Regions from separate parts of the Homo sapiens genome. Here region 2 is linked to region 1. The links come from fine-mapping of genetic effects on gene expression. A gene starts in region 1. The other region holds a variant in brackets. All regions are shown on one strand. Distances are from middle to middle.

Region 1 (5,369 bases):
TGCTGGGCACATTTCTTGTTCTGTGTTATCTGAATGGGCGCCTCATGGTGATACTCCCTGGGCAGGCAGAGATTGGGCTCCGAGGCCTGGCCTGATCCCCTGCACACACCTTGACCATGTCTCCTATGGTGGACTTAGATGGGTGGGAGCTTTTTAAATAGCTGGTCGTCGTGTGAGTACCAGTCCACCCCCAAAGGTTTCATGGGGATAGTTCCAATGTGACAAGAAAGAATGAAAAATAGTCTTAAGACCAAACCAGAGAGGGGACAGAGAAGGCCACCCCCCACCCCCACTCTGAAGAGCAAGCACAGCAGGGGAGATGTGGCCACTGCCATCGTCTGGGGCTGCTTTCTGGTCTGTGGGCTGGTTTGCATCCTCACCTCTGCAGGGCTGGAATGTGTGTGTGGTCAGGGGGGCATTTGCCCAGGGAAGGGGGCATTTTGCGGCTTTTCGAGAATAGCGCCCCTAGGCCAGGCACTTCCTCTGCAGATCATGACTTTGTTTTGAGCATGTGGCTTCCTCAGGGGCTGTGGCCTCTCGTGGGAGTCCAGCAAGGTGGACATTTTGTGTTTGGGTTCCTTACAGCCCTTCAGGCAGTCGCTGGAGCCCAGCTGACCTTGCCTAGAAGGGGAGCTGTGGGGGGAGGCGCCCTTGTCCTCCATTTTGAAGACGGAGGGTCCTGGCTGGCCTCCCATGCAGTTGCCCTTTTTAGCACCCCATAGTCCCAACAGGTTGTGAGGCGGGGAGGGCTGGGGTCCAGGAGCCTGGGCAGTGGACTTCTCTGCCACCTGGATAATGGCCAGAGGACAGGGAAGCTCTTAGTCTGAAGTGTCATTTCAGACGCCCCCATGGCCTCAGGATTCCTGCCAATTATAGAGCCAGATGCACACTGTCACCTGGGCTTCTCTGTGCAGGCCTGACCAGGAACCCAGGGTTCCTCTTCCTTCTCCCTCCCCTGGAATGAGGCAAGGTTGGGACTGGGGTGGCTGCTGAGGACAGATGTCCCTACTCCTGCACAGAGGATGCTGCTCTCCCCTCCAGGGCCTGGACTCAGCTGCACCCATGTCAGGGGCTAAAACTGTGCCGAAAACTCCCATTCCTTCAAGTGCCAGCTCCCTGGGCAGGCCGTGGGCAATGCACACTGCAGGGGTGCCTCTCTGGCCTTCCTCCCCACTGCTTTGTGGAGATCTGTCCCCCACACCCCCCCACACACCAGGGCTATCTTGCAGTTGGATCAAACCAGGTTCACACCTCAGCTCTTCTCACTACCAAGTTACTGAGTGCCTGGAACCTGTTTCTTCCCCTTCGAGCTGGGGGTTCACCTCCTGGGGATTCCATGATGTGGGTCTGTGTGGTGGGGACAGCCACCACCAGCATAGAGTGTCCGGTGCCCCACAGGTGCTGTTCTGTGGATGGGAGGCTCCCTTACCTTGTTCCCTTCCCAGTGGTACCAGCAGCTGGACGTGGCTCCTATATTCCCAGGAGGAGATTCTTTGAAACCTTTTCTTTTCTGAGCCCCTGAGCCTGTTCTGATGCCCTGATGCCATACCCTCACCACCCCAGCGTCCTCCCTGCCCTGGGCTCTCACCAGCGTCTGTTGCCTCATGCCTCTGCACCTGAATTTGAAGGCTGCACCAGCGAGCCATTCTTCCCCCACCTCCAGGCAAGACTGTTCCTCGACCAGTGCTGGCAGAGGCCAGCAATCTTCACTGGGTCTACCCCAGTCTTCCAAGCCTCCCAAAGAGAAGTTTCTAAAACCTCCCCAGGATCTTTTACTAAGAATTCTCTCCTCCACCCCATACCTTTGGTCTCAAAGGGGTGGTGGGGAGGCCGCCCTCCGTTCTCCGCCCGGTTCATGGTCTTGTTGTTCTCCAGCTCCGGTGGAGGCTCGGGGTACTCTCCGAGCTCGGGGATGATTTCCGTGGCATCATTCTTGAACGCCTGCCACCCCTGGCCCTCCACTACACGGAAGGCTGTGTGTACCAGCAGGCAGACGAGACACAGGGCCAGTGGGAGCTGCATGGTACCAGCCAGAGGAGGGCACGCCACCTTCCAGTAGCACAGGCTCTGGTCTCCAGCCGAGACACGGTCGCCTTTTTAAAGCCCCTCTCTGCTTCATGCCAGCCAATGAGGACAGGCTGGGGCAGGGCTGGTCCCATGTTTCCCTCAGCCCCGGAGGGAGGGAAAGGGGTGTGCTCAGAGCAAACCCTCCCCAAAGACTTCTCCTCTAGCTCAGCAAACTTCCAAATTGCTGCTGGCACTCCCAGGTGACCCAGAGAGAGGGGGCGTGTGAGGCAAGGCCCAAGCCTGCTCTCCGGCACCTCCCACGTGCTGGCGGCTGTGGTTTTCAGATATCAAAATGAGCTCCGGCTTTTAATTGTCTGTCTCCCTGGGCCCTCGGGCATTCTCAAAACAAACTGTGGACCCGCTCAACAAAGAAAATGTGCAGTTCTGAGTGCTTCGCGGGGCTGAGCCCGGCCTATTCCATTTCTCAGGCCAAGTTCATTTGTCACCCCACCAACAAATGGCCCAAGGCGTTTCTGTTTGACCCCCATAGACCCAGCCAGAGGCAAAAAGATGCTTTTAAAGAAATCCCATTGGTCCCAACTCCACAAGTCTCAGCATTCATTGTCCTAACCAAGAAAGCCTCTCTTGGTATTCTCTGGAAGGCAAGAGAGAGAACTAGAGGGTCAGAGCAAGGGTGCCCGCTTGGGAGAGAGGGCAGGATTCTGGTTACAAATCGAGGATGCGCTGGTCACTCAGGCTCCTGTGGTGGACAGCACAGAGGAAATCCCAGCTCATGCTCCTCAGGGATCCTGTGCACTGTGACAGGCACTTCTGAGCCAGGGCACTCACTGTGGCTCGCAGGGTGATGTGCTGAAGACAGTCATTTCCCCAACCAGTCTGTGTGTGTGAGAAGACAACACCAAATTCCTTTCCTTAGCAAAAGCCACAGCCAGCGTTTTTAGTGCTGACATTTTATTTTCTTGTCTTCCAGCTGGTTACATTTTTCAAAAACAGTTTTGAGTCCTGTATGGAAAGCTTCATTGGTGCACACCACAGGATGTGTTCCATGAAGCCATCCCAGGACCAAGTGGTCACAAAGAAGCTAAGAGAAAATGCTGCCTTGGCCCTGCATATAATGAGCCACACAGGGCCGGGGCGGGGGGCGGGGGGGCAGGTAGAGGCGTGGGGGAGAAGGATTCACACCTGAGGTGCAAGAAGAGAAAGGAAGGCCAGAGGAATCTTTCATTGAAGACAGATTGTTTGAGGACAAGCAGCTCCTGTGAAGAGGCTGCCCAGATCCTCTGGTATTTTAACTGGGCAATGAATCAGCATGCCCCACCTGCAGAGCCTCTGCAAGTCCTTTGCCACCTGCCTCAACTTGCAAGTCGCTGTGTCCATCTGCAGCCGACTGTCCTCCTTTCCATCATCCATCATCCGACACATGAATGCAGCTGCTCTGACAGTTTTACAAGCCAGACAGAAGCCCCCTCAGGAAGGGCCCTCTCTGATACCTGCTTCCTAAGTCAGTTTCCTTCAGGGCAGATGAAAACAGCTGTGGCCATTGTTGGGGGTGATCTATCTCTCCCAGCAGAGCCGGTAGTGTTGTGAGAAGCTGGCCCTCCGCGCCACCTCCCCTTGTCTATGACCCTCCAGCCTCCTTTTCCCTTGCTCTGGAATGTGGACTGTTAACCCTCTCATGACCAGACGACTGCCTTCTTGCAATGGACTTGGGAGAGAGCAGTTCTGATGCCTGGGTTCCTTGAGCAGGTAGGATGGATGCTTATAGCCCCACCTGCTGTTGGGAGCGGCTGGACCGTCTGCATTAAACAGAGGCAGTGGGATTCATCCCTGGAACGCGTCTGCCACCTGCTGGAGACAAAAGGAGGGGTGACTGCAGGATGGCAAGTCTCAGGACTGGACGTGATTTCCTTTCCTTTCCTTTCCTTATTTGGAAGTGAAGTAATATTAAAAGGAAAAAGAAGAATCCAGTGGACTTGAACCTCTAAATGATCCACACCCCTCTGAATGGCTCAGCGAGAACCTGCTGTGACATCTTCTGCTGTTTCATTTAATGTTAAGTCATTGACAGCTGTTTATTTTTACTCAGTCCACAAACTTGTCATTGTTCACAGTACTCCCTGGAATTAAACCCCCAGGGTTTTAGCTGATTCCTATTGTGAGTAGTTTAGGTTATTTCCAATTTTTTTTCCTATTTCCAGCAGGGTTGCTATGAACATCCTTGTACGGCTGAAATTTTTTTTTTTTTCTTTTTTTGGCAGATTCTCTCTGTGGCCCAGGCTGCAGTGCAGTGGCACAATCTTGGCTCACTGCAACCTCCACCTCCTGGGTTCAAGCAATTCTCCTGCCTCAGCCTCCCGAGTAGCTGGGATTACAGGAATGCACCACCACGCCCGGCCAATTTTGTATTTTTAGTAGAGACGGGGGTTTCTCCATGTTACTCAGGCTGGTCTCGAACTTCTGACCTCGGGTGATCTGCCCAACTCGGCCTCCCAAGGTGCTGGGGATTAGAGGCATGAGCCACAATGCCCGGCCTCAGAGTAATTTTTTAAATTAAAATTTTAAAATGTGGATATAATTATAAATTTAAATATACTTATAAGAAATAAAAGCCTGGGCAACATGGTGAGGCCTAGTCTCTACAAAAAATTTAAAAATTAGCTGGGCATGGGGTCGCACGCCTGTGGTCTTAGCTACTTGGGAGGCTGAGGTGGGAGGTTCACTTGAGGTTGAGGTCGAGGCTGCAGTGAGCCATACTTGGGCCACTGCACTCCAGCCTGGATGACAGAGTGAGACCCCGTCTCAAAAAATAAAAATAAAAAAAAGAAAATGCAGACTCCGTGTATCCTTTATCCAGTTTCCCACAACAATAACACCTTGCGAAACTATAGGACAATATCACAACTAGGATATTGATATTGACACAATTTACCAATCTTACCCACATCTCCCGTGGTTTAACCTCTACTGTGTGCGTGCACACGCATTCACGTGTGTGTATACTTAGTTCTATGCAATCTTGTCACGGGTAAATTTGGGGATCCACCACAGTCAAGATAAAGCACAGCTCTGTGACCACAAGTCTTTCTCCTGTTGCCCACCTCCTTCCCTCCTTTTCCCTCCCTCCCACAACTAACCCCTGGCAACTACTCATCTAATCTCCATTTCTGTCATTTTTTTTTTTCACTTCAAAATTGTTACATAAATGCGGCCAGGTGCGGTGGCTCACTCATGTAATCCCAGCACTTTGGGAAGCCAAGGCAGGCAGATCACTTGAGGTCAGGAGTTCGAGACCAGCCTGGCCAACATGGCGAAACCCTGTCTCTACTAAAAATACAAAAATT
Region 2 (5,369 bases), 60 kb before region 1:
TCCAAACTTTTCAGCAAATTATAGTGTTTGCCAACTGGCCGTCTGGGGCCCAGGAGAGATGCTATTTATAGCGATGCTGGGATGCTGCCATCCCAGAGCAGCCTGGTAAGAAACGGAGCCAGAGTGCCTGGGAGTGGCGTCCTGCACCCTGGGGAGAGGCCAGGGCCCTGGAGCAGGGTGGCAAAGCTGGTGGCCCGTGGCAAGGACCACTGGCACATCCCCTGCCTGCCTGGGCCCTGGGGTCTGTGCCCATACCCCACACGGGGGGCTGCTTCCGTGCTCCTTGGAGAGACGATGGTGCTGTGGGGCCACTGAGCACAGTAAAGGCTAAGACCCACCATAGGTCAGCCCTTGCTCATGCTGACTGTTGCCCCATTTCCCTTCATTCTCTCACTCGTTCATTCCTCAGAATCTGCATCCTGGTTTTGTCACTACCTGGAGTTGTAAAGATACCACCAAGCTCACCTTGTGGTGTGAGCCTTGATTTTCCCCATCTGTGTAAAGGGTGGATCTGAGCTCCAAAGTTCCTTCTAGTCATATGCAGAGTGCATAATAAATGTGTTTGTATTCCCACTGTGCTCAGTGGGCACTGGGGCATGCAGAAGAGAAATTGGAATAAATGTGACCCTTGTCCTCCAGAGGCTCAGTACCAGACTGGAACCAGGACCCAGATGAGGGGCCTACCCAGAGAGGGCAGCGTGCTCTCCTATTTGTGTTAGGCGTTACCATTTACAAAGGGCTTTACGGCTTTGAAGGTCCCCACAACGCCCTGAGGAGGTGAAGTGTGGCAATGCCCGTTCACTTGGGAAAATACTGCATCTCAGAGAGACCAAGGGACTCGCTTAAGGTCACACAGATACAGTAAGTAAGTAGGGAAAGAGCTGGGGCCTCTGGGCTCCTTTTCCGGGGCTCTGGCCTCGGTTTTAACCCGTTCTCCTAGACCTCTCAGTCTCTGGGCCTCCCCTCTGTGTTCCCCACCCCCACTTTCCATCAAGAGCTCAGTTCTCTTAAGTTCTATATTCTCTCTTCCCCACCCCTAGAAATCTCTGCCCGCTTCCAGAAAAGGCTTTGATTCCGTCATTTTTGGCATTTCCCACCCAGGAATCAAGGCTGCCTCCTCTGTGAGGAAGGCGTGTGGAAGGCGAGCAGCTGAGGACACCTCTTTTTAAGAGAAGCTTCTCCATGTTCTTAGCCAGGTTATATAACTTCTTTTGCTTCTTTCTTTTCCACATTCTACATATTTTTCACAATGAGGATGTGTCACTTCTATAGTTAAAAATGGAAATCTTCATTTAAAAGAACAATCAGACACAAGGCAAGGTATGCTTACCTTCCCAATGACCAAGGAGCAGGGAGACATTGGTCGTGGAGGCCATAGGTGACCAGCCTTGAGGGAAGGGAAGGAAGGGGAGGTGCAGGGAGGCGCAGCAGAGGCACCCGAGTGTGCTCTACGAATGTAAGTCTGCCAGCTGCTCCTCTGTGCCTAGCACCCTGGAAAGCGCCCGCACACAGTGGGCCCTCAGCAAACTCCCACTGAGCAAAGGGCCCTGTGAGTAAGGACCTAGAAGCAGGGTGTGCTTGAGGCATGGGGTGGGAGGGCATCCAGCTTGGCTGGCGGTGGGAGCCGATGCAAAGGTGAGCTGAGACCAGACGGTAGAAGACCTTCAGTGCTGGGCCGAGGAGGGTTCCTTCATCCCATAGAGAAGAGCTGCCATCCAAGACAGAAGGCTGGGGAGTGACATGTTGAAATCAGTATCTTAGGAAAATAAAGCCACTGGCTGGGCCACTGGCTCCCCTTTGTAGAGGGGTCTACGAAGCTCCCGAGGTTTCAGATAGTCCCTGAGAGCCCTTCCCCTCGCGATGGGCTCCGTTTGAGGCATGTCCAGTGTGAAAGGACCACAGGCCACCTGAGGGACAGGACCAAGCAGAGAGCTAGTGACAGAATGCCCAGGGCTCCAAGACAGGGCTGGAGAGGTGGGAGTGGTCCCCACCTTGAGAGCCAAAGGGGCTGAGGGCTGAGGGTTGAAGGCCGAGAGCCAGGAAGGTCCAGGGGAGCAAAAGGGGGAGCAGAGGGGGAGCTGGAGGTGTTGGGGTGGTGGGTAGAGAGCCAAGATAGGGAGGGGACAAGAGAGGGGAGAATCTCAAGGAAAAGCAGGAGCATGAGACTGAGAGAAGGCCCCTGGAACACTGGCTTGAATGTGGCTGACATTGGCACTGCCAGTACTCATCCCAAACCAGGGAGCTCAGCCAGCGCCCTTTCTGCATGTCCGCTCTTTCATCAGACAGCTAGGAACAAGTTATACGAGATGATGTCCAAGTCCAATAAATGTCTAAGTCCTTTCCACTGGATCTGGCCCCAGCCTCCTCTCTGAACCATCTCCTATCACTCCACCCTATCCCTGCTGGCTCCTTCTGCTCCAGCCATACAGGCTTGCTCCTGGGCTCAGCTTGTGCCTGCCTGGGGAGCCTCGCGCTTGCTGTTTCCTCCTTGAGAAATTCCTGCCCTGGATAACTCCTTCCCCCACTTCCTTCAGATCTCTGCTCCCTTATCAGGGGGCTTCCCCTGGCTGCCCTATCTATAACAGCCCTGACCACTCTTTTCCTCTTCTCCTGCTTTCTTTGTCTTCCTGTTCTTATCACTAAGACATCACACATGTCTTAGTTGGCTTGTTTATATTCTGTCTCCACCCATCTTAGTCAGCTACTGCTGAAATGATGC[T/C]GTGTAACAAACCACCCCGATACTCAGAGGCTCCAAACAAGTGCTGATCTTTCTCATTTGTGAGTCTGTGTGTCAGCCCGAGCAGGGCAGCTCCAGGCTATGGCTTGGGTTTGGGTGGACTCCATGTCTCTCTCCATTCTCCTTGGACCAGCAGCTCCCTGGGGCACATGCTTGTCTTGGAGAATGGCAGGAACTTAAAAGCCAAGCCAAACCTCACAGCACGGTTAAGGGTGATCATGACACACCGCTAACATTCTAGTGGCCAAAGAAGTCTCATGGCCAAGTGTAATAGCAGTGGATTGGGCAAGTTTACTCTCTTACACCTGTTGTGAAGGGGAGTGGGAGGGGATGGGGGGGTGACCGTTTTCACAACAACAGTGCAAACTATCCCATCTCCCAATAGAACATAAACACCTTAAGGTTGGAACTGGGTCTGTATCCCCAGCACTTAAAATAGTTTTTGGCATACAGTAAGGGTGCAATAGACATTTGTTAAATAAATATACAGACTAACCAATTAGCATAATACAGATGACAAAGGTGTCTCTCTTCTGCCAGCTTCTGTGCCTGAAATGTTGATGATCTCCTCCCTATCTTCCTAACATCTCTCCTGTCCCCACCTGTCCATGCCCAGGGTTTGGCTGCTGTGACAGAAGTGTGAGAGCCTCCTGTCTCCCTTGGGATCCCAGTAAGAGCTTCCATGCCTCTCTCCCTGCTCACCTGGGCTCCCATCCCTGGGGACCTTCTGGAAACAGCTTCCAGGGCTCCCAGAGCTTACTTAGCCAGATTCTACATCTGGCTCCAGCTGTTATCCTAAGCTTGGCCTTGTTTTCTGATCTGACCACAGCTTCATCACTCCTACCTGACTGTGGGATTCTAGCCCCCAGTGGGGTGGGGGACCAAGGGTGACAATTACCTGGGACCTTGACTATTGAAAGGCTAATCAGGTTTGATTGGGAAAAAAGAGTTGCTAAAAAGGATTGTATTGGATAATTGGTGAGATTTGAACATGGATTTTATATTAGTATTGTGTTATTACATTTTCTGATATTAGTCATTCTTTTTTTTTTTTTTTTTTGACGGAGTTTGCTCTGTCACCAGGCTGGAGTGCAATAGTGTGATCTCGGCTCACTGCAACCTCTGCCACCCGGGTTCAAGCGATTCCCCTGCTTCGGCCTCCTGAGTAGCTGGGACTACAGGCGGGTGCCACCACACCCAGCTTGTTTTTGTACTTTTAGTAGAGACAGGGTTTCAACATGTTGGCCAGGATGGTCTCGATCTCTTGACCTCGTGATCTGCCCGCCTCAGCCTCCCAAAGTGCTGGGATTACAGGCATGAGTCACCGCTCCCGGCCGTTAGTCATTCTTATAGGTATGTAAGAAAATGTCCTTGAGGTATTTAGCAGGGAAGTTCATGATCTCTGCAGCTTACTCACAAATGGTTAAACAGAATGAGACTAAGAACAGACTAGTAAGAAAAGACTGAAGAATATAATTATTAGGCCAGGTGCAGTGACTCACACCTGTAAATCCCAACATTTTGGGAAGCTGAGATAGGAGGATCACTTGAGGCCAGGAGTTTGAGACCAGCCTGGGCAACATAGTGAGACCCCATCTCTACAAAAAAAAAAAAAAGTAAAAATTACGTGGGCACGGTGGTATACGCCTGTACTTCCAGCTTCTTGGGAGGCTGAAGTGGGATGATCAGAGGACCTCAGGAGTTTGAGGCTGCAGTGAGCTATGATTGCAGCACTGCACTCCAGCCAGGGAGACAGACTGAGGCCCGGTCTCTAAAAAAAAAGGAATCTATGTGAGTCTATATATTCGTGCAACTTTTCTATAGGATTGAAACTCTTTAAAATAAGCTTAATAATAAAAACAAAAGCTGGTGGGTGAGACCTTTCATGTACTCTCCAGGAGAGTTAAGCCCCCCAACATTCCTGTCCCCTTGTTTACTCTCAAGCACCCCCTCCCCCACCCAAGGACCAGGTCTTTGTTTACTGAGCATCTCAGCGATGAGCTCTCACCCCCTGATTTCATCAATTATAAATGTGCTCGCTACTCACCACACGGCAATTTGTGACGGACTGTGGTTTGTGGTGAGAGTAGCACCATCCAAGTTCACCGCAGCCGCGAGTAGAGATGAGGGTTGGGGCCAGACACAGGGCTGTGGGGGCGGCAAGGGCACGCAGGCAGCCCTGCCACCTTCCTGTTTGTCAGCCAAGTGAGGCTTCCGAGGGCAGCGGGCGAGCGGGTCACTACTCAGGGCCAGCTACTGCGGCCAGGCCAGGCTAGTCAGGTCTGTGCAGCCAGAACTAGAGGCTCCGCCAGGATGTGAGGTCTCCCAGCTCCTGGGAACTGAAGCAAACACTCTGACTACCCCTTCTTGAAGTGCCTTACGGTGTATACATTTGTTTAATCTGCACAACAAACCTAGGAGCAGTTATTGTTACTGTCCTCATTTTGCAGATGAGGAAACTGAGGCAAAGAGAAATTAAGTAACTCCTTCAAAGTCTGGTAAGTGACAGAACCAGATTTTACCCTCTTACTCATTGTCCATATTGCCGAGTAACTTACATTAATAGATACTATGCATGTTTATTTTATTTTTTATTTTTTTTTAGAGATGGGGTCTCATTCTTTTTTTTTTT

Evidence for each region. PIP is the estimated chance that this variant, and not a neighbour inherited with it, causes the effect. A credible set is the group of variants that fine-mapping cannot tell apart.
Region 2: its variant is the best candidate, but not a certain one, in a credible set for the expression of SOST in aorta (GTEx, PIP 0.70).

Annotation. Positions count from the first base shown.
Region 1 is chr17:43,756,720-43,762,088 of GRCh38, forward strand. It overlaps SOST (sclerostin), which reads right to left and starts at 2,072. Exons shown (of 2, transcript NM_025237.3): 1 at 1,803-2,072. The coding sequence starts at 2,022. RefSeq lists a silencer at 3,722-4,016.
Region 2 is chr17:43,696,599-43,701,967 of GRCh38, forward strand. The region is part of intron 3 of LINC02594 (long intergenic non-protein coding RNA 2594); the gene reads left to right. Among named protein-coding and RNA genes, the nearest start is that of LINC02594, 34 kb to the left of the region's middle. RefSeq lists enhancers at 4,996-5,155, 5,273-5,369. The variant T/C (reference allele first, on the strand shown) is at 2,720.